Regions from separate parts of the Homo sapiens genome. Here all the other regions are linked to region 2. The links come from fine-mapping of genetic effects on gene expression. A gene starts in region 2. Each other region holds a variant in brackets. All regions are shown on one strand. Distances are from middle to middle.

Region 1 (8,187 bases), 36 kb before region 2:
CCCCTTTCCTTTATTCACAGAGAAGTTAAGGCCAGATACTTAATACCCCCATCTTCCCCAGGTCTCCACTTCATCAATAATCTTTTACCCAACATCTTTAGGCTTTCCCCTTTCTCAGCATTCTTCCCCTCCAGCCAGCTTCCGTGACTCAAAAAGTCCAACTCTCTATTCGGCACTCCATTTAGGCCATAGTTTCCTCTTTGCCTCATCTTTGCCAGGATTCTGATGAGTACTTTAGACCTGAGGGATGAGGCAGGCTTCCCAAAAGAAGTGAGGTGTTTTCCTCCCACTATCCACTCCCTCCTTAATAGATATCATCTATTCCTATGTTCCCAATCAACATTCTGGTGACTCCCAAATATTAACTGCAGCCTAGACACACCTTTCTTATGAATGTCAGACAAGTAAAACTGCAGCAGAAACAATTTGCCTGTTTCAGTCTTCGCAAGTTACACAGAAACTGATGAGACATCCTTAACATCACTCTATGATCCATCACTTTCCTTTCATCTATCAGCAAATCCAACAGCTCTACACCTAACATACTGCTCAAATATTCAATGATATTTCTTTAAAAAAACAAACTGATTGCACAAAGGTCCAAATGCACGTGATCTTATTTCTACCACTTTATGTGGACATTATTTATGAATTTCTCTTCTCCTAGTCTCTAAGCTTCCTATTTAGTGGTACACTCTGGGCACTTAACATGTATTAGTTCATACCTCCCTTTTGGGCTTTGTTCTGAATCTCAAATGATCTTCATGAAAAACTCTGAGACATAACTATGTTCATTTCACAGATAAGGAAAATGAGGCTCAAATGGGTTAGGTTCACAAAAGGGCATACTATACTGGTGTGTACAGAAAAGTCACAAAAATCATGGCCCATTTAGTATACACGATTTCATATTACACATGGAAAAATCCAAACTAGATTAAATGGTATGGAAAATTATTAGCTGACAGAACAAGAAGTCCAGTGATGGCACAAGTTCAGAATTAGCTGATTTGCATCTCGGTAGTTTCATCAAGCACTGTGCTTTTTTTTTTTTCTTTCTCCATTCTATTATCCATAGCACCGACTTTATCCTGAACCTGGGTCCCTTTGTAGCATCTAGACTACAAGCTTTAGTTTTCATCTTGAAGCAGAAAGGGCTTGGTTGACTATGGCTTTTTCTCCCAAACCTCCTTCAAATTTTATTCTCTTTTCTCATTGGCCAGGAGTGAATTACATGCCTATTACTGAACTAACATGCTGGCAGTGGAAATAGGATTACCCTTAAACCAACTGACCAGCTCAGGTCAATTCCCCAAACCACACTGCTGCTACTCAACAGGGCTGTAGCAGAATGGATGCTGGGGAACCAACAACAATGCCCACTTTAGGCAGTGCTGGAAAGAGAACTTAGTAGCCAAAGCCTCTGAGAGCTTGAAGCTAATTACTGTTATTATCAATCAGCTTCTCCATCTCCAAAGACTGGCCTACTTACAATGAATATTCAATTAAATACATCAAAGTTGTGATTATTTTTAAAAGGTGTGCTTGTGTAGGGAGATGGGGGATTGGCATGGGATGGATTCAGACATTAATGAAGAAAAGAAAAATGTGTAGCTTTGATCTTTCTGTCTAGCTTTATCCTCTGCTGCTTCCTACCTTGAAATTCATGACCTAGGAATACCACTGAACTGCTGGTAGACCTCCTATTCTCTTCCCCTATCACCTCCCCACCAAATTTGACTCTTATACTTCCTTCACCTCTGATCACGGTGGTCCCACCACCTAGAAATGCTGGTCCTACTCCAACCTAATCCTATCTCCTGCTCTTTGGGAGGCTAAGTCCTATTCACCTCATGTCAGCTCAGACCTCTTCTTCAGAAAGCCTTTTAGGAGTCTCTGGCTACCACAGCAAGAAACCATTCCCTATGCTCCCTCATGCACAGTCCCCTGGTGCTTCATTTTCCTCACAGTACTAAGAATGTCCATGTAATTGATCTGTCTGCCTTGCCCAGCACAACTGTAAGCTCCTGGAAGGCAGGTACCATCTGTTTTTCATCTCCATGACTTCCATTCCTGAGTCCAGGACCTGGCACATAAGAGACATTAAGGAAACACTTGTTCAGCTGCAGAATGAACCAGCAATTCCCTTCCTTTACGCAATCATGCCTTAAATCAGAAGAAAGCTTTTCTCTGCTAGTAAATACTTGGCATTCAAAATGTAAGGTATCTATAAACAGGAGGCAGAATACAGTTTTTTGACTTTCCACACACGTAGGCTTATTTTTCACACAAATATTTTAATCCTCCATAGCTGTTCCTTCCTCCACTGCAAACTCCCCAGTAGTTGATTTAGGTTTTTGTACTTAGAATTATTTATTTAAAACCATTTTTGATAGACTTTGCTTTGTTTTCCCTGAAATTTCATGTCCCTAATATTTACAAATCAAACAACTCTCCAATGGCCTCTTACAATGCATGACCTCCATCTCTTTGCTTGTGTCAAAGGTGTCCCCTTTTGATTTCTCTTTTTTGTGTTCATCACTGCCCTTTCTTGTTTTCCCTAAAGTTATTTACTTAATTTAATGGGCTTGGCAGCTCACTGGTCGGCTTCGAGACCCTCTTCTCGTTTCCCTAATCTTCACCACCACTCCTGTGCCTGACGGATTCCTAGTCATTGAACTGACACCGCAGGCAGCTTGTGGTCTTTATGGGAAGTGCTGCTGCTGTCACTTTTACTTAATTTGAATGTCATTAATATTGAATTCTTCAAAATGAAGAGTTAAAAACCAAAATGAATTTCACAAACATTGCTCTTAAAAAAATTTAAGAGAGAAATGTTTCACTGCAAATGCACATATTTTAGCATTGTTTTGAAATGCCCTTTTGAAGGCACCATGTTTTTTTCATGTGTAAAAACCTACTTCCCCAGAAAATTGAAAACCAGGTGCATTGCTGGTGGGAATGTCAAGTGATACACCCCCTGTGGGAAACAGTATGGTGGTTCCTCAAAAAATTAAACACAGAATTGTCATTTAATCCAACAATTCAACTTGTAGGTATACACACACACACACACACACACACACACACACAAACACACACACACAAACTGAAAGCAGGAACTCAAGATATTTGTATGCTCATGTACATAGCAGCATTATTCATAACAGTCAAACAGGCATAAACCAAATGCCTGTGGATGCATGAATGGATAAACACAATGTGATACATATAATGAAATATTTTGCGCCTATAAAAGGAATGGCATTCTCATCCAT[A/G]CTACAACATGCATGAACCTTGAAGACATTATGCTAAAGTGAAATATGCCAGACAAAAATGGACAACTATTGGACGATTCACTTATATGAGTTAATCAAATCTACAGAGAAAGAAAATAGAACAATGGCTACACATGGGCTGTGGGAGAGAAAATGGGAAGTTATTGGTAAGTTATGGGTATAGTGTTTCACTTTGGGATGATGAAAACTCTCTGGAGATGGATGGTGATGATGGTTATACAATAATGTGAATGTGCCTAATGCCACTGAACCATATAATTAAAAATGATTAAAATGATGAATTTAATGTATATTTTGTCACAATAAAAAAATAAAAACTTAAAAACCCCACTCCCTCTCATTTTAACTTCCCTAATACCTCCATAAATGGAAAGAGAGGTTCCAAAGATATTTTTATTCAAAGGTTTGAGAGTTTATTTATGAATAATATCATCGTGATTTTCATCTAGAATGTTATTTTATTTTTTAATAAAATGGTAAAAATTATAGCTCAAAAGTATGAGGTTACTTCAGAATTTTCCTGGAAAGGAAATGTTCTCCAAAACAGGTCTTGTCCTAATCAGCAGAAGCAGGGCTTGGATTGCTGATTGCTGGAAATGAGCCTGGGCTCTCCAAGGCTTAGTGGCTGAGGGATGCCATTCTCATGTGATTTAGGTGACAGTAACAGGCTACCTGGAATGAAGTGCCAGGCCTTGTTTTCTCTGCTCACAGTGATGCTAGAAGAGTTGAGGGGTGCATTGGCATCTGCTGTCATTCCCAAGAACAAGTGCATCTTAGTCTCCAGGAAGCCACCCAACTTCCAGTTCTTCCAATCTCCACCCACACCACTCTCTGTCATGAAACAAGGGATGGAGACTTATTAAATTTTAATGTTCCTCTATTCTGAGTTTTGCCTTGAATAGAGACACTGTGAAAACACTCCCAGTTGCCCCTCAGAATGAGCTGGCTCCCCAACCAAGGAACCCCCACATAGAAACTGCAAGCAGTGCCCTGAAATGTGTTGTGCTTCTCTACCTTGACAGAACTGACCTTTTACATCATATGCTCTTCCTTTCCCTTATTTGCATAGATAACTGCTTCAGGAAATATTAATTTTTCTCTTTTTTCTACTGTAAAGCTTTAACTAGTCTTGCACCCAGTATATCCTCTTAAGCAATAAAAACACTTCTCCTCTTTTTCTTTCTTTTTTTTTTTTTTTTGAGACAGTGTTTTGCTCTGTTGCCCAGGCCGGAGTGCAGTGGTGTGATCATGGCTCACTGCAGTCTCAACCTCGCAGGCTCAAGTGTTCCTTCCACCTCAGCCACCCAAGTAGCTGTGACTACAGGTGTGCACCACCACACCCAGCTAATTTTTGTATTATTTGTAGAGGCAGGGTTCTGCCATGTTGCCCAGGCTGGTCTTAGACTCCTGGGCTCAAGCGACCTGCCCACCTCGACCTCCCAAATTCCTGGGAACACAAGCATCAGCTACATTGCCCAGCCACCTCTTTTTCTTATATGATCTGTATGTGTGTGTATGTACCATGTGTTGCAAATATTTATTGACAGGTCTGCTAAATCTATGACTAGGAGCCCCCAGAAGAAGTGACTACTTCTTGCTGAGCTTTACAAATGTAGTGTGTAGCCACATAACTACCTTACAGTAGGTGCTCAATCATTGTTTATAGACTGAGCATAGATATGATGGAAAGATACTGATTGAATCCTACTCACTGCCATTCGGTACTGATGCGTAACATATATTTTTCAAAAAAGCAAATAAAAGTTGCTTCCAATCTAATTGTGTAATTCACCAAAAATGTTAAATCACAAAACCATAAAGCTATCCTGAAACTACTGATTTATTTGACTGCCATCTGCAAAGCAGAGACTATCTTATTCATCTTTGCACCTGCAAAGCCTAAACAGTTGTACATACTCAACCCTCAATAAATGTTGCTAAATGAATCAGTGACCTTAAAAACAAATATACTCCAATCCCCACCATTAGTTATTAGAATTGAGATAGGTTATTTCAAATTTCATGTTTATGTCTTGCTTCTAGCTAAAGTTCCTGAAGGAGATGGTCCTTCTTTAACACTTCCCTAATATAATATACACATAACACTCTCCAATATGTTTAATTCATTATATTAATTATTATAGGTGCTTCATTTATTGTATTCTGGATTCGAATTCAGCAGAGACTACCCTCAAGAAGTAATGTGAACATCACAAAAAGTCTGTAACTCTTTGTAGCAGACACTTCTGATGGGCTACACATTCTCAACACTCTCATTTTTGCCACCTACTGAAGTATGGCTACAACGCCAATAGCAAATTTCACAGCTTCCCTTGCAGCTACAAGTGAGGTTGATGACAGATTCCTCCCTAGGGCACATAAGCAGAAGTTTGATGGGAAACAAACAGTTCTGGAACTGACAAAAGAGGAAAGATCTTAACATCACTCTTCCCCTTTGTCTCTGCCTTAAAGGCATATGTGATATCTAGAACTGCTACAGTACATGCTGTGACCACAGGGCTACAAAGATGAAAAAAAGTCAAGAGAATAATAGTCACATTGGCTCTGACATCATTGGGCTACTCGAACTTTGTTCTTCATTATTCTCCTCTGGACTTGAGAGTCTGTGAGAAAAGTAATTCTCTGCTTATTAAGCCATGGTTAGTCGTGTCTTCTACAACTTTCAGATGAACCCCTGCAAAATGACACATTTCCATTTTAACCAATAACATAGGATTGTTTAGCCCTTCTTTTTAAAAGAGAAAACAGAAATCCTAGTAAAATGTTCTGGTCTGGGTTTCACAGCTCCTATTATGACTTAGAAAGCTGAATAAGTATAGTATGAATAACAGATATACCTTAGGAATATACCTTAGGAATACATGTTATTATCAGTAAACTCTGACATCAGAGGTAATCAATCCAGATGACACTCTGAAGACCTGAGGATGAAACTTTCTTGCTTAGCTGGGGTCCTAAGGTACCCAGAAAAGTGCCCAGATCATTCATGAAAACTTTTGCATCAATGAATGGGGATGGGAATGTGTTCCTGTGTGTCTGGTCATTAATGTGTTGACATAAAAATACAACAACTGTACCAGAAAGTATGTCTCAGGAACACAGGCTTGGTTTAGCTAATAGAAAGGGAGCACAACATCTCCTTGGGCAAAGGAAACTGCCCAGCAGATATCTTCTAGGACAGGGGTCAGCAAACTATGGCCCATTGACCAAATCCATCCTGCTGTTTGTTTTCATGTGGTTTGTGACCCCAAAATAGTTTTTACATTTTAAAGTGATTGGAAAAAAACATTTTATGACACATGGGAATTACATGAAATTCAAAGTTCAATGTCCATAAAGTGTTACTGGAAAATAATAAATGAGGCATGCTCATTTATCTATATAGTGTTCATGTCTGCTTTTGTGCTACAATGGCAGCAGTGAGTAACTGTGACACAGACCACGTGGCCTGCAAAGACTGAAATATTTACTGGCTGGCTCTTTGCAGAAAAAGTTTGCTGGCCCTTGCTCTAGGGTAGAGTATAACCATAACCTGAAGGGCACTGGGACCTGATAACCCCAGCCTCCTTTACTCTAGCAACATCAAGGAAGAACTTATGGGTCTTTGCAGGACTAGCCTCTGACTTATTCTGTACTTCCCCACTCCCAGCTAATTTAAATGAGCTAAATTATGCTGAATTTTATCACTTGGGTCAGGCAATGAGGAGACAGAATATGATTTCCAAATTTCTCCTTGGTCAGCTAAATGTGATATTACATATACTTGCTGAAGCTTAAAATTTCTATAGAGGTCTTTTTCCCACTATCAAAAACAGGGGTAAAATATAAATGTCCAGAAGGGTAATTCAGCAGCATTAAAAGCTGAACATGTCCACCCCCAGCAAGTCTAAGTGGCCAATAATAGATGGCTCCCCTATTCCATGCAAGAAGAGACTGGAAAAAAAGAAGTTATTACATCAATGAGAAAGACAGGGGAAGAAACTAAATGGAAACTGAAAGACTGAACCCACAAAACTCGTGCTATTGTCCTCACAAATCTGCCCACAGTAGCCTGACAATGATGATGTGGCTGCCCAAGCTGGACCTACATGACTGTTCAGCACAGCCAGACGTTCAAACCACATGCAGCAGTGTAAGGACATGGTCTTCTCTGGGCCCCACGATGCTCACTCACTCTGGTTTACTTGTCTACAGAAACAATTTCATCTTTGTAAAAACAGTTCGCTATAATGGAATCTAGTTTTCCAAAGACTACTTAAGTTTAATCACCACATCAAATATTCACTTGTCCTACACTTGATACATAGACAACCTAAAACAATGGAAATTAAAATAATGCTTAACTTAGGTATTGCAGAATCAGTAAAGTGGGGACAGACTTTAGAAGATGTCCAAGGCATGAATATTAACTCTTCTCATTCATGAGGAGAATACAAGGGCAGACACATGCAGAAGTTCTATGATGCTTTAGACAAGGGATTCAGGTATCACTTTGAGAGATTGATAAGTGGTCTACACTGGTGACTTTAAAAATATTTTTAACTATGATACTACAGAAAGAGATTTCACATTGTGAATCCATGACCAATCATCTTTATGTATATGAATTGAACCACGTTTTTATGAAATATTACTTTCCTTTACTACATATCATCTACTCTTTATTTTTTTAAATAAAGTAGTTCCTCTTGCATCCTTCAGGGAAGAAGAAATAGACATACTTTTCTCCATTCATCCCACTTAGTAAAGTTAAAAATGATGGACATTATATATGAGACAAACATAAGACAACTGAATGGTAAAGAGAAGGAAGACAATCTAAAGACCTTGAAGGACCTTGAATAATCTGGTGGTGAGTTCTCTCAGC
Region 2 (8,187 bases):
AAAGTTACACATAGTAAAAAACCTTCTAATTTGTTACTAATTAGAAAAACTGGCTGGCATGAATAAGTGAAAATTCAGGATATAAAACACATGCCAAATAGTATAGCTTTTCCTAAGAGAAGGGATGAGAGTACAAGTGATATTTACTTAGGATGCAGGTTCCAGACACCCTTCTAGAAGCCCTCTCCTTTATTTAATCCTCACAATGAGCAGGGCACGGTGGCTCACTCCTGTAATCCCAGCACTTTGGGAGGCCGAGGCGGGCGGATCACGAGGTTAGGAGATGGAGACCATCCTGGCTAACATGGTGAAACTCTGTCTCTACTAAAAGTACAAAAAAATCAGCCGGGCGTGGTAGCAGGCACCTGTAGCCCAGCTACTCGGGAGGCTGAGGCAGGAAAATGGCGTGAACCCGGGAGGCGGAGCTTGCAGTGAGCCGAGATCGCGCCACTGCATTCCAGCCTGGGCGACAGAGCAAGACTCCGTCTCAAAAAAAAAAAAAAAAATCCTCACAATGTTCCCAGGAGGAAAGCAGTAGTGAGCCCATTTTTTCCAGATGTGGAGACTAAAGCTTAGAATGTTAAGCAATTCGAACTGTATTTTCTATTCCAGTTCCTCTGGCAAAACTCCTTATTCTCTGAAGCAGCATTTCTCAATAAGTTGGGTAAACTGATCATTACTTGGCCATGGCTTGGCCTCGTTATACGGGATGGCCATGCGCTGCAGGACATTTATTATCTGTGGCCATGGGCACAAAATACCAACAGCAGCCCCCAGCAGCAGTTCCTACATATCCCAAATGTGTCCAGGGACAATGTCACCCAGCAGTAGAGGTAAACTGTTCTAAAAGATTTTTTGGGCATCAAGACAAAAGACTGAAGAGAAGGGCACTTCGAGGTGGGCAGATCACGAGGTCAGGAGATCGAGACCATCCTGGCTAACATGGTGAAACTCCGTCTCTACTAAAAATACCAAAAAAATTAGCCAGGCATGGTGGCGGGTGCCTATAGTCCCAGCTACTTGGGAGGCTGAGGCAGGAGAATGGCGTGAACCTGGGAGGCGGAGCTTGCAGTGAGCTGAGACCGCGCCACTGTACTCTAGCCTGGGCGACAGAGCAAGACTCTGTCTCAAAAAAAAAAAAAAAAAAATCTCCCATCCTCAAATCTGTCAGAAATCCCTTATTGTATCACATTTAGGCTTCCAAGAAAGCCCCATGTACCCTTATAGAACCAGTTACAAAACCTCCATGAATATATTTGCCATGCAATTCATGAGCATTGAGTACCTATTATGGGCAAAGTACTGTGCTATGAGCTAGGAATATAAAGTCCAAGTCTAACCCCCAAGGGGGTTAGAGTCTAGTAAGAGGCAGATTAAGTATGATAAGTATTAAGATAAATGTGAGCAGGAGGCACTTCCCATAGACTGGAAAGAGTGCTGAGAAGGCAGAAGAAAAAGGAGGGCTGGGACAGTTTCCCAGAGGAAGTGACATTTTCCCAAAGGCTTGAAAGACCAAGTAGGAGTAACCAGGAAGGGACTGGTCCAGGCTGATATCTTTGCAAAGACCAAAGATAGGAATCATATTTGAAGTTAAAGTTTAAAATACTTCCTTCATTCTTTGAGACCTCATTGTGATTCAAACTCAGGATCTCCTGTTTACTAGACAGGTACTTTAACCAAGTCACTAGAAAATAAACTCTCCATAGTCCACATGTACTTCCTTCCTAAGTTCTTGTTTTTGTAAAGTCTGGCTTCACTGGTGTAATCACCCATCACGCAAGAAATAAGACAAATTTATACTTCTTACAGGGAACAAGAAATTGTTTTCGAGAACAGTGTGGACTAGCAACAAAGAGGAGTGTCCCTGTCTTGGGGACACAGGAGTGGTGAAGACGAGAGATCATAATCAGTGTCACCTGATGGGTGACATAGAACGGACACTTAAGGAGTAGGTCAACATATCCTTGGTCTCAAGCTCAAGATGAACTTTATCTCGGCTTTTGTTTTGTTCTTTGGCATCTGAAGTCTTGACTATCAAGCATAACGATGCAAAAAAAAAAAAAAAAAAAAAAAAAAGATTCTCACCCTACTGGTACATTTGCACAGAAAAGAAAACCTAGAAAAATCTTGATTGTAAGAGAGAGAGAGGATTTCATTTTTGTTAATAAAGTTAGGAAAGCTGGAAGTGGCTGGCTGTGGATCTCTGAACCTGAGATAGCCCAAAGGCAAGAGTTTCCCGAGTTTATGGGTGCTGAGTATAGGAGCTGGGTTGTTGCTACTTCAGGTTGTTAAGACAGTCGTTATAAGGGGAGCAAGAGTCAGATTAGTTCAATTTCTTTCTCCTGGGGCAGGGAGGAGAGGGAGCAGCAAGCCAGCCTCGTGGCCTTCTCGTCTCTAGCCTACAAGGAATAGGCTGATTTCCCCTTGGCAAGGCGCCTGAAGCAGCTGGCAGGCAAGCCCTCCTCTTCCTACTTCAGTACGCCCTCTGACCTGACTGCACTCAGAAACCAAAATTCTGCAGGTGAATGTAGGCTCCCATTTCGTCCCACAATCATTTCATCATTCAGGCACAGCTTGACCTCTAATGTGACATCACAAACCCTTCCGGTCCACAGTTTTTTTTTCTTCTTCAGAAACTACCTAAACAAGGAAGTTTGTGTTCCAAGGTAAGATAACCTGAAATGAAAAACTCAGGATCCCTCACGAACAGCCTGACCCTGCTTTCAACCAGGAAGTTCAAGGGAGGCAGGACTTTACGGTCAAAACTGCAAAGCCGAAGCTCAAGACTGTAAGAAGAAAGTGATCTTCAAAGAAAAGGATTCACCCAAATCGAAGAGGTTGTTGCACTTCTTTTCCCTGGCTGATTACATTTCATGTCTGTAAACTTTGCTAAGCCCGGGGCGCTGGCTGTATAAGCAGAGACAGGTGTAGGGACACCTCTACCCTCTGGGTACATCTGCGGCCGCCGCTGCTGGGTGCATAGGACGAAGGGCCCTCGACCCAATCCCAGTCCAAGCTTCCGGATGACGCACCTGGGCTGGGGACCTCTCCCACGTGAGGGGGGCCAACCAAGCATCCCCAGCCCCGGGGCCACCCAGCCTGCTCCGGAGGGAGGGGGCAGGGAAAAAGGGCATCTCGGGGCCAAAACCTCATGCCGGATCCTCCGGCTTTCCCCCCATTTCCAGGATATCGTTTCGCATCAGGGACACTCGTCTCCACACCTCCTACCTCAAAGTCCTACGCACCTACCCTTCACGTCTCTCCAAAGCAACTGAATTAAAGCGCCTACTGGCCTTGGCGGCGCAGGTGAGTGCCAAGAGGTGGAGGAGGAAGGGGCCCGCTCTCCGCCACCCCCTTTCCTCGCCTCCCCACGATCGCCAAGCTTCATCGGGGATGTGTGCCTTGGGGTGCGCGGGTTAAGAGGGAGCTTAAAAATGCCCCAAGCGTCCCTTACCTTCCACAGCCATTCTCTCAGAGCTTCCCTAACGCATGCATAATTTTCTTGGCCGAGGTACTCCTCCTGCCCCGCGCTCCCCCCTTCCTCTCGCTTTCGCCTAAATATTCTGCGCTTATCTGCTCCAGGACCAACCTGCCGCGGTCACGCAAAGCGAGGCAGCCGGCTCCCGGCTCGGCGCGCGCAGGGCGTCCTGGGAAGTGTAGTTCCCTCCCTTCGCTCGGACTGGGGAGAGCACCCCGACTCCTCCGCGGAGTGCCGCCTGGCCCCGACACTTGGAGAGCAACTCCAGCTTCAGCTGGCCAGGCCGAGCAATCTCTCCTGGGGAAGTTGTGAGGGGACCAGGGATGCCTGGTTGTGGCGGGGCGGGGGGGGAGGGGGGGGGGGTTCCCGGGAAGCGGTCTGGACTACATCTCCCAGGAGGCCGTGCGCTGAGATAGGTTCGCTGCTAAGAGTAGGGACCCGTGATTGAGCCCTTCCCTGTCCATTACAAGGGGTTTGGCACCTAGCAGGTGTGGTGAGGTGGGCAGGTGACGGTCAGCTGTGTGATGAGCTCCTGCGAGCTCGTCCGTGGGCCTCTGCCGCCGGTACCGCCCCGCCCCCTGGCCTCCTGAACCACCATTTAGTAGGGAGAGCAGGACCACTGTCCTCCTGTGTGGTTCTCCACCTGGGCCAGAGAACGCTGCCCAGGGTGAGGTTGAAACTTGTTCCTTCGCACCCTGAGATGTATGGGTTTTGTGGGGGAATTCCGACGGTTGATACAGTTGTCTTATCCTACAGGGTGGTTCAGGTGGCTAAATACTTGGCATGGGGGTGTAGGGGAGGAGGAGTGGCTTAAACCCCAATAGGCAACGTCCCCAAGGGGTTGTTAGGAACAAAGTCTGGGAGCCAGGATTGCACCGGAGGAGGTCAGATGAAAGCCTGTCTGGCTTCCAGGATAGGAGGCTTTCAATTTGCCTAGACTTGGAGCCTGTTGACAGCCTGTGATAGGGCCTAATAATTAACAGTGCCTGAGAATCAGGTTCCTTCAACTTCTGAACCTATGTCCTAGCTGTAGGTGCTGGGGATGCTATAAGCAGACATGATAATGGGAATCACGTGGATAGCAATACAATTCGACAGCTCGTAAAAATTAAGTTTCTAAACATTTTTTCCTGCGTGTGAAAATACGGATACAGTTGTGGCTGGAAGGGGTAAGGGAATAGCCTCGGGAATAAATCTGGCTCAAGACTGGATTGACTTTTAAAGGCCTTCAGTTTACAAATGTATTTGGTACCACATCCACCCAGTCACTCATATATAATGTTAATCTCTGTAAAATGAGGAAGTACAAAAATCGGATTCTTCCCATGATGACTACTTAGACATTTTTGTGTGTCTTGGTCATCAGCAAAAAAAAAAAAATGTTTTTCAAAACAATTTCGTTTCTCAGTGTATACATGCACACCTGTTGTTCTGGTCACTAATTACATGCTTAGTTCCCCTACTGGGTAATATATAATAATAATATGTGTATAGGTACTTTAAAAAATACCTGCGTGTAACCATTAAATGCTCTTGTTGATACTTTAATTCTGAGTCCATGGAGCTGTGTACAAGTCAAACCTAAGCCTCTCTTTTAGGTACAGTAGAGAGAGACCCATTCAGTGAGACATAATTTCCATGGGAAAAAGAATTTTCCGACCTAATACACAGCCAAGCATTCTAAACTCTGGAAAGAACTGAAATCCAGGTGCTTCACTACTTTATGTATATAAAATCACCAAAGTGTTAAGTATTTTCTGAGATTGAATGAATGTGAAAGAAAGCCATAGGACAGGTAGTATCAATGGTTCTCAACCTTGGCTGTGCATCAGCCTTCTACAAATATATATTCCTAAGCTTTTATCTTAGTCTCACAGAATCAGAGCTTATGGGGGTTTGGGTAGAGGCACTCAGGTTTTAAAAACCCACAGGTGATTCCAGTCTTCATTGAGGGTGAAAACCATTGGTCTGGTTCCAAGCTTTTAAATATCTGGGTGATATAAAAATATAAAAGTCATTGAAATCTGTGGTTAATTTTAAAACTTCATCTTAGCTCATCTTTAATATTTTTCCCAGTGATGTGCATTCTAGACGAGTTTTATTTTTAGTATAAATAAAATGTGAAGGAGATGTTAGTTTCTACCATATGAAATAGCCAATGTTTGACCATTTTTAAAACCTACAAATAGAACAATTTCATGTGGTTCTGCCTAATAAGGGATAAACAATAGTTGCGCAGAGGTTTTCAATTCTGGCTGAACATTAGAATCACCTGGGAAGTACTAAAAAAAAATTACATTTATCTCTAGAATGTTTGAAAGATAAAGACACAAAATACCAACCGTTGGCAAGATTGTGAAGCAATAAAGATTTATATATTGCTGGTGGTGTGCAAATTCACAAAACCACTTTGGAAAACCATCTGAAATATTCAGCTGAATATATGCTTATCCTGTGACCCAGAAGTTCTACTCCTAGGTTTACACCAAACAAATATGCATACAGATGTTCTCCAAAAGACATGTGCAAGAATGTTTGTGGCTGCATTATTTTAATGTTCCCAAATGGAAAACAACTCAAATATTTATCAACACAGATTGGAGAGATGAACTGTGGTATAACCAAATAATTCCATATAGCAGGGGTCAACAAACTAAGACCAATGAGCCAAATATGGCTCACCATTTATTTCTTATAACTCACCAGCTAGGTGTGATTTTTACATTTTTAAATGGTTGGAAAAAAAACAAAAAAAGTATAATTTGCAAAGCCTGGAAATTATAAAGACATACTTACATAATATCCTCAATTTTGCCTCTTGTCCTACAAAGCCTCAAATATTTCCTACCTGATCCTTTGCAGAAAAAAAGCTTTCCAAACCCTCCTATAAAGTAATGCAAATGAAGGAATTACAATTGTATACAACAACATGATGAGCCACATGTATTAATCGATTGCTGTTAACAAATTATCCCAATATTTAGTGGTTTACAACAATACCCATGTATTACTTCAGTTTCTGTGGCTCAGTAATTTGGGCACAGCTTAGCTTCTGCTTTAGTATCTTTCACAGACTGCAATCATGACTTATTTTTGGTCTTTTTTATCAGCAGCCAAGTACAGTTCCTAACAGATATACCCAATTTTAGCAAGGGGCAAAGTCCAGACCTCATCCCATACCTCTCATAAGCCAAATTCTGTGTTCATTATGATGCTATTGTTTGTTCCTTATAGTATATAAGCACTTCGAGTGCTGGAACTGAGTCTTATGCTTCATATCTTCCAGATTCTTGGTCATAATTGTGGTTACATAGTAAGTACTCAATAGATAATTTATTACTACTATTTTTTTATCCTTGTTATAAGTAGCATTTGTTGGGAAATTACAAGTGCCAAGCTCTGTCTAAGCATCTTGACATACATCATCTCCTTTAATCACTACAATATTGTCAGATATCACTATTTTCCAGATGAGGAAATTGAAGCTCAGTGAATTTAAGTAATTTGCCCCATGTCTCCAAAACATGAATTGTAGCAAGGGGATTGAGGTCTACCTAAGTGTAGAACTCTGTGATGTTACTCCATCTAGATTTCAATACTGATTACGTGATCACAAATCTGAATTCATAAGCACTTGGCCAAATAGGAATTGTCATTACTAATAAAATGAAGGGTTTAAAATATTTTAATATCAGAAATTGTGATATTTAGAATGATTCAAAAATTTCTGAATATATCAGAGAGCACAGAAAGGGAAGGAAAAGCCCATTACCTTATAGTGAATTAAATAAAAAAAGAAATATTGAGATGAGGCTACAGATTTCACTGGATTCTAAGATTTAAAATAGTACATATAAGTACTTTACTGTATTTATTGTTCTAACTCGGTTGCTATATTCACAAGCCTCTACAGAAAACATTCATAAATCTCAAAAAGTAAATAGATTATGTTTCTATTCTGTTCAGGGAGATCTTCTAAACCTAACCAAAAGGATTCAAACCCTAAAAAGTAAAATTTTTGACAGGAGGAACTGAGAGGAAAAAAATAATTTTTTTGTAATTAAGATAAAAAATACTAACTCTAATCCTTGAGTCATGAATAAAGTGCCAACCATTCAAGTTATATCAGGCTTCCATTGGAGGAAGTAAGCATATTTCAGGGAACATGATTTAAGCAAAAGCCTAGTTGTTTTTGCTTAAATCACATTGTGCATAATTAAATCGCATTGTGTGTTATCTGTTTGTTGATAAGTTGGTGATATTCTATACCATCGTTCGTCTAAACTATACTTTCAAAATCAGACTTAAATTATGTCTTCAAAATTTGAGCAGAATCTGTCTACCTTTATATTAACTGGTTATCTGAATATTTGGCTTCAGTACTCAAGTTTCGTAGACATACAGAACTAGATTGTAATCCTGACTCTCATTTACTCGATGTTGGTTATTAGCAAAGTTCTTTGACATTTCTGTGCCTTGGTTTTCCCACATGTATTGTAATGCTATTAATTGTGTAATGTATACATTACCTAGCTCACAGTTTGGGGCTCAGCAGTGACTGAGAGAGTATCTATAGTGTTGTGCGCTGTCCTGGCACATAATGGATGCCCAATAAGTGTTTGCTCTTTTGATCATCCATGGAAGCCTGAGAGGCCATTCCCAAAGAACATGGATATAATTCAGTTAAGCAGTAGCAAGGGCCTCAGGAT
Region 3 (8,187 bases), 83 kb after region 2:
TTTCCATTAAATAAGATACTATTAAAGCACTTAGTAGATTTCCATCGCAAAAGTCCATGAGACCAGGCATCTGCCTTCCATTTACAAAGCATTTTTTTCATTGGATGTGTAAATACATTTCTTACATTCTCATTCATCACCTTTTTTTGTTTTTTTTTGAGATGGAGTCTCACTCTGTCACCCCGGCTGGAGGGCAGTGGCACAATCTCAGCTCACGGCAACCCTCTCCTTCAGGGTTCAAGCTGTTGCCCTGCCTCAGCCTCCCAAGTAGCCGGGATTACAAGCATGCACCATTATGCCCAGCTAATTTTTGTACTTTTAGTAGAGACAGGGTTTTGTCATGTTGACCAGGCTGGTCTCGAACTTCTGACTTCAAGTGGTCTGCCTCCCTGGGCCTCCCAAAGTGCTGGGATTACAGGCATGAGCCACCACACCCGGCCCATCCCTTTTTGACTTGGCCTTTGGTTCTCCTTTTGCCTTCTTCTCTGGTTTTCTGGTATAAGACTTGGTGTATTTGGGGTTTTATTTTAAATAATCCAGGTCTATTCATTTTCTCCAAGTACATTTCAAGAGCAAAACTAAAATCTTAGAAAAGGGAAACTAATGTCTGGGTGCGGTGGCTCACACCTGTAATCCCAGCACTTTGGGAGGCCGAGACGGACAGATCTTGAGGTCAGGAGTTCAAGACCAGCCTGGCCAACAAAGTGAAACCCAGTATCTACTAATGATACAAAACATTAGCCAGGCATGGTGGCATGCACCTGTAATCCCAGCTACTCAGGAGGCTGAGGCAAGAGAATCACTTGAACCCCATAGGCAGAGGTTGTAGTGAACCGAGATTGCACCATTGCAATCCAGTGTGGATGACAGAGCGAGACTCCATCTCAAAAAAAAAAAAAAAAAAAAAGGAAAAGGGAAACTAATGTGTAGAGGGTTTAATGAAATATTGGCAGGAAAATAATCTCTTTGTTTTGCTGTTTTAAACAGGAGGCATGTTGAACAATATAGGGAAATACAAATGTTTATTTGTTAGGATCTCTCTGTGATGCCGGCTGAGTCCCAGGAAAACACACTCGGAGATCGACATGGTGGGCTTTTGTTAGGGAGTGCTCTTGGGATCAACCTGTAAAAGGGAGGAAAAGAAGTAGGATTGTGCAGAGAAAGAAGCTGGGCTGAGATGCAGTCCAGTGGAAACCTCAGTCATTCCTATGGGGAGTTCTGAAGATGGCATGACCCTTGGGTCCCTAGTTGGAATGAAAGGGCTGGTCTTTTACAGGCCTGTGTTAATCAGTCATTGGATGTGGGCTGTTCTGGGACTGGGACAAGGTGTGTGACCTTGGATGAGTGGCTTCCTTCAAGATAAGGTAATCTCTGGATGGTGCTGATAGCTGAGAACTAATAACTTCATTTTGATGAGAAATCTTGATGGTGTGTCACTGTGACCCACATATTCTGAAAAAAGGTGCTTATAGAAGGGCAATTTTCTATGAATGCTGTTTTGCTATCCTATTATGGAATATTCTCTATTAACTCAGTATTCAATATCCATACTATTAGTGGTTAAGGGGATAAGATCATAATAAAATGCATCCTTAATACTTTTTTTATGACTCTCACGGTCAATTACACACTTCCTATGTCTTTATATCAGAGTCTTACAGCCATGTCAGTATGCCACCTCAAAAATGTTGAAAAAACCGATGAGTTTTGTAGAGTTTGCTCAGGGGGAATGAGCATTTTCTGCCCTCTCCTAGCCCTCCTTCTCATCCTGTCAGGTTCACCTGAGCTAAGTGGATCTCCGGAGTCTAAAATGGAGAAGATAAAAATAACTCAAATCATCTTCCCTCTGCCCGTCCACCTTGAACCTGTTCTCTTCTCTGCTCTGTGCCCTGCAAAGCTGATCCTTGAGGTCGACATTTTTCACCTCCCTTTCTGGCTGGCTTCTCATTGGGTTAAACCAGTGGGAGGCAAGAAGAAAGAAATTGGCTTGTTGAAGGAGAAAAAGGTCGGAGAGTTTCTTCCCTGCTGTCTCCATGTGTCAATGATGCTTCTTCAGCAGTAGCAGTGTCCTGTGGTAACAACCCCAGCCAGATAGTCCCTCTTCCAGGTTCCCAGCTCTCACTGGGCTCCAGTTACACTAGTTGAACTCTTTCGGTGCTGACCTAGGGTGGGAAGCATTAGCACATGGGCCATTACAGGGCATGCCCAGATGGGCAATTTTATTCTTCCATTAAAAAAAAAGATCAATAGCTTTGTTACTATACATAGTTTCCAGGAGATTTGTCCCTAGAAATTCCATTACATTTGGATGTCACTCAGGATCAAAGCAACACCTGCAAGTTTTTATGTTATACCACACACTCATCTTCCCTTAATTGCTATCTACCGTTTAAGGCTGATAGCAATAAATCCATACGCAGTGTGAAAGGGTAGCTGTGAATCCTGAGGCAACAGTTTATCATCATTAGCAAAGGTGATAAGGCAGGTACCTAGAAAACTTGGAAGGTCTCCTGCAAAATTAGCAAGAATGCCTGCCAAGCTCAGGCACTCTGACTTCTGCACACCTTTCTCTAGGCTGCCTGTGGCCAATTCTTTCCAAGTTTGTGCAGGTCATATCCTCCTTCCCTGCAGGCAGTTTTCTTTACCACTGTTTGTTTCATCGTAACAGCTGTTATTATTTAGTGACAGTGTGAATTATTAGGAAGAACGTATTTTATAAGTGATGTGATTCCCTTCTCTCTTCCCATAACAGAGAAGCCACTACTATGTTTCTAAATTTCTGAGTACTCTTGAACTAGTAGAGCCAGGAGATCTTATGGGTTGGGTCCATCCAGGAGGATTAATTGTGGATTCCTCAGTGGAGAAGGGAAAGGATGGGCAGAGTGCATGGACAGGCAGAGTTAGAGGCAGTGTCAGAGTGACTGCTGAGACAGAGAATAAGGTCAAGTTGGCAGAGACCAAGCCCTGCTTTGCACCAGTGGGGAGAAGGAAGCTGTAAAACTGGTGTGTGGAAATAACTCCTATGAGATGCATCCCTGGGCTTGTCCAGGGCAGCTGTGGTTGGGAAGATGGACTTTAATATTGAGCAAGCCAAAAATATTCAAACAAGGGTCACAATGTGGACTAATATTTTAAATATTCTTTTATAGTTTATTTTATTTCGATAGTTTTGGGGGAACAGGTGGTTTTGGGTTACATGGATAAGTTCTTTAGTGGTGATGTCTGAGATTTTGGTGTACACTGTACCCAATGTGTAATCTTTTATCCCTCATTGCCCTCACCCCTCTCCCACCTTCCCCTCGAGTCCTCAAATTCCTTTATGTCATTCTTATGCCTCTGTATCTTCACAGCTTAGCTCCCACTTATAAGTGAAAACATATGATATTTGGTTTTCCATTCCTGAGTTATTTCAGTTAGAATAATGGTCTCCAACTCCATCCAGGTTGCTGTGAATGACATTTTGTTCATTTTTAAGGCTGAGTGGTATTTTCTTTATCCACTCGTTAGTTGATGGGCATTTAGACTGATTCCACATTTTTGAAATTGTGAATTGTGCTGCTATAAGCATGTGTGTGCAAATGTCTTTTGAATATAGTGACTTCTTTTCCTTTGGGTAGATACCCAGTAGTGGAATTGCTGGATTGAATGGTAGTTCTACTTTCAGTTTTTTAAAGGCATCTCCACACTGCACACTGTTTTCCATAGTAGTTATACTAGTTTACATTCCCATCAGCAGTGTAAAAGTGTTCCCTCTTCTCCACATCCACTTCAACATCGAGTATTTTTTGTTTTTTTAAATTATGTCCATTCTTGCAGGAATAAGGTGGTATTTTAAATTTGCATTTGCCTGATAGTGATGAGCATTTTTTCATATGTTTTTTGGCCATTTGT[G/A]TATCTTCTTTTGATAATTGTCTATTCATGTTCTTTCCCCACTTTTAAATGAGATTATTTGTGGGTTTTTTTTTTTTTTTTTTTTTTTTGCTGATTTGTTTGAGTTCCTTATAGATTTTGGATATTAGTCCTTTGTGGGATGCACAGTTTGTGAAGATTTCCTCCCACTCTGTGGGTTATCTGTTTTCTCAGCTGATTATTTCTTTTGCTGTGCAGAGCTTTTTAATTTAATCAGGTCCCATCTATTTTTGTTTTTGTTGCATTTACTTTTGGGTTTTTGGTCCTGAACTCTCTGTCTAAGCCAATGTCTAGAAGAGTTTTTCTGATGTTATCTTCTAGAGTTTCTATGGTTTCAGGTCTTAGATTTAAGTCTTTGATCCATCTTGAGTTGATTTTTGTGTAAGGTGAGAGATGCGGATCTAGTTTCATTCTCCTACATGTGGCTAGCCAATTATCCCAGCACCGTTTGTTGAATAGGGTGTCCTTTTCCTGCTTTATGTTTTTGTTTTGTTGAAGATCAGTTGGCTGTAAGCATTTGGCTTTATCTCTGGGTTATCTATTCTGTTCCATTGGTCTACGTGCCTATTTTTATACCAGCACCATGCTGTTTTGGTAACTTTAGCTCATGGATGGGTAGAATCAATATTGTGAAAATGACCATACTGCCAAAAGAATCTACAGATTCAATGTAATTTCCATCAAAATACGATCATCATTCTTCACAGAACTAGAAAAAACAATCCTAAAACTTACATGTAACCAAAAAAGAGCCCACATAGCCAAAGCAAGACTAAGCAAAAAGAATATATCTGGGGCATCATATTGCCTAACTTCAAACAATGTAGACTAATTTTAAGCAGCCATTTACTTACTTATTTTAATGTGCATACGGAATATATATACTCTTTACATGTTAAAAATGGTTGAATGGCTATTCCTTTTTTTCTACTAATTAAATGAATTTGAAGAACATATCAAGAAAATAATAATATTGTATAGATAGTACCTAGATGCGTAAATTCCTGAAGTAGAGGAATATCAAGTATTGTAATGGAAAAAGTTAGAGGAGGCCACAACCATCAAGACCTGGCCCCTCTTCCAGTATTTCTGCCACAAATTTTCAGGATGTTTCTATCAGTATAATCCCATGAAGGAAGTGAATGGAGCCAGACATTTACTGAAATTGAATTTCTCTGCAACCAGAAGAATGGAGACTTAGACTAGGTATAATTTGATTTAGAAAAATAAAGGGAGGTGTGCTAAGTATTCTACTTGTTCTCCTATCAATTTGCTCTCTACTCTCTCAGACTTCCTCTGTGCCCTGCAAAATTCCAACAGGCTGCTTTGCCCTCCAGCTTTAATTGGGTTTGCTCAGGGCTGGGATTAGGGTAAAAGGAATGAGGACCCCAGGGTACTGCGAGGGCCTCTTTAAACTGTATGCCTAGTTCTGGTCCTGTATTCACCAATAGGAGACAGGATAGAAAAGAATGATGTTGGTGTATTAATTCCCCAGCTTCCTCTCTGCCGGATTGCTGGGGGTTTGTTGCTTTCTTCCACTGAGGCAATGGTTTCTATCAGCACATTTCTCCATACAGTTCTTCTTCCAGGTCCCCCAACCTTGTCCTTATTATTTCTCTCAGTGTGTGTGTGTGGTGTAGGGAAAGGGATGGCTAGTGAAGGCAGGGGAGGAACCTGGTTGTTACAGCTGGCTCCCTGCTGTTACTAGACCTAGGGTACCATACCATTCCTTGTTATTGCCCTGGGGGACTCCACCATTCCTTGTTCCACACTGGAGTGCAACACTAGTCCTTTTAGGAGACTAAATCCTGCCCACAACTCTATAAATATTCCCTTTATTAAAACCTCCCATTTACTTGCTTGACTTTACTATCTGTTTCTTGCTGGAACGAAAAGGGATATAGCACATAACATGTCTTGATCCCTGGAGCTATGATCTAAAATTCAACTCTTTTACATTTAAGAAATGAAGTAATTTTCTTATTGCCTGTTTTCCTATGAGTTTGCTGGTTCTAGAGTGGACAGGGCCATTATCTGTTGTCACCAGTGTGTCCGTAGGGCCTAAAAGCTTAGTATATGCTTGTTGACTAACTTACTATCGACAAAATCTATGTCACAATTTCCCTATATAAGAACAAAGAACAAGGAATATTGTATACTTGTCTGTTAGAATAAAATCTTGCAACAGAGAAATAGGCTGAGAAAAGAGTGGCGAATTTATTCTCTGTCTCTGCCTCTATAATATATCATTAATTTCCCTAAATTCTTTAATGTTTTCTTAGTAATTTTTGGCTCCAAAATCCCTACTTGGTGGATAAGGTAAAACAAATTTCAGTAAGCAAACTTCACAGGGGGGTGGAAGAGGCATCATAAGTACACCACATGCTCATTCTTCTTAATTGCCAGATCTTCCATCTGTTGGTCTGAGATAATATTGATAAAGGAATTAAAGATGCCACACCATCTCCTGAATCAAATGAGAACAGTCGTTCTTAAGTTACAGAATATGACATTTTAATGCTTTGCAACATGAAGAGGAAAGAGCATTTAGTTTATTTTCATGTGGCTAATTTGAAGCTAGATTAGATCATCTAGTTAACTCATAGGTTCTTAACTTTTAAGGCCAAATATTGTGTAGCATCTCATTTTCACAGTGGCGGTTGTTACTGTTAATAATTGAATCAACTAGGAAGTTAACCTTGAATACCAAACACAAAATCTCTAAACCAAAAGCTAGAAGTAACACAATTTGGGGAATAGAGCCATGCTTAAATAAGAGGCAGCATTGTGTTGCCTCAAAATAGGCATAGCTTTGATGCTTGAATATTTTAATATATTTTTCTATATGGATAATGTTGTTCTCTTAAAATCTTGTTACTTTCTCATATTATGGAGCAGAAAGAATGGTGGAAAATCTCAAAAACAAATAAAGCAACGCTCGTAGTCAGTACTTGAATACTGACTCAAGTACTCTGAATCTCAAGACAGGACCCAGTGACATTTTGGAATTGGATGGATCTAGCTTGTCTAGACCAAGAGGTGGGTCTGGCTTGTCTCTGGTGGTTCTAGCTAAGAAGGGAATTCTTTGAACCACTCAATCAGATTTAGAATTGGTATTAAGCAATAATAAGCTACTGTAGTTTGCCACTATAATTCAGACTATATGACCAGAAATGAAATGGGGCAAATAAATTACATCAGTGGCTTACAATTTTAAGACTTCTGAAGATTTTAGTATTAAAAGCCTGGGGTAGTAAGATGTGAATTACAATTTTCTTTTTATGTAACCATGGAAACACCTGAAAAATACACAGCCTCTGAATGGACATTTGATTTGAAATTTATACAATACCACAATTCTGTTTACCAAACTCAAGTTTCAGTTCAAACTCAGATATTGGCAGATAGCCTTCAGAAGGTCACCAGGCCACTCAGAAGTCTGAGGGTTTCATACTTTGGTTAATTTTCACCCCCTCCATCCCTTGCCCATCAGCACCCTTAATCTTACTTTAGCGTTATCTGTTTTTCTTTGACTAACATTGTAAAGAGTATCATTTAACTGAGTTCAGACTAATTGGGAATGAATATGCAACACATTTTAGTCCAACTTGATTATCCTGTAGGTATCCTAGGAAGATTGTTCTTGAATCTGTGCGTTTCCTGCATGCTAGTTTCATGTATCTTTTAATGACATCTTGATTACTGCCATTATTATTTTATGTTTATAAAATGCCCTGAAATATGTCTTTAGCTCATCTCCAGTTCTTTATAGTTTAAAAAGCCCGACTATCTTCTTTAACAACCTCTTCAGTTTCAAGCCCAATCATTTGAAGAGATCTACCTTTCACAAATTGGAAAAATAAGATTTTGAAGTAGTGTTTACAGCCCATGTAGACTAGAACAAGAATAGTTAAAAAGGTAAGCATGAGAGGCCTTTTCAGCTGAGTAGCACCAGTTTGAAAGTGAACATCAGTATTTCTACTTAAAGTATGTTAGGTTGTGTAGGTTATATGGCTTTGGGAACAGGGGAAAGGTTTTGAAAAGATAAATCAGAGGAGATTATACGGGAAGACTTTTATTCTGCAGAAAAAAAAGTATCTGAGTATTATATTTTTTCCCCAGAAACTTCTTTCTTGCTAAAGACTATGGAATCAAAATCCACAGCAACTCCCAGCATGTTAAGAGAAGAGACCAGAATTTCAGTGACATTTTAGGATTAGGATAGATTAATGTCATCTCTGTGTCCCAAGAGTCACAACATATTGATAAAACGGTGAT

What was found. PIP is the estimated chance that this variant, and not a neighbour inherited with it, causes the effect.
Region 1: its variant is fine-mapped to the expression of SAMD12 in esophagus mucosa (GTEx, PIP 0.96).
Region 3: its variant is fine-mapped to the expression of SAMD12 in whole blood (TOPMed, PIP 0.95).

What each region holds. Positions count from the first base shown.
Region 1 is chr8:118,581,863-118,590,049 of GRCh38, forward strand. All of the region lies in intron 1 of SAMD12 (sterile alpha motif domain containing 12), which reads right to left. Among named protein-coding and RNA genes, the nearest start is that of SAMD12-AS1, 35 kb to the right of the region's middle. The variant A/G (reference allele first, on the strand shown) is at 3,279.
Region 2 is chr8:118,618,350-118,626,536 of GRCh38, forward strand. It overlaps SAMD12 (sterile alpha motif domain containing 12), which reads right to left and starts at 3,614. Exons shown (of 4, transcript NM_207506.3): 1 at 3,455-3,614. The coding sequence starts at 3,467. It overlaps SAMD12-AS1 (SAMD12 antisense RNA 1), which reads left to right and starts at 2,652. Exons shown (of 5, transcript NR_038210.1): 1 at 2,652-2,837; 2 at 3,186-3,306. RefSeq lists enhancers at 2,607-2,656, 2,687-2,896, 3,507-3,706 and a silencer at 3,807-3,956.
Region 3 is chr8:118,701,424-118,709,610 of GRCh38, forward strand. All of the region lies in intron 3 of SAMD12-AS1 (SAMD12 antisense RNA 1), which reads left to right. Among named protein-coding and RNA genes, the nearest start is that of SAMD12, 84 kb to the left of the region's middle. The variant G/A (reference allele first, on the strand shown) is at 3,892.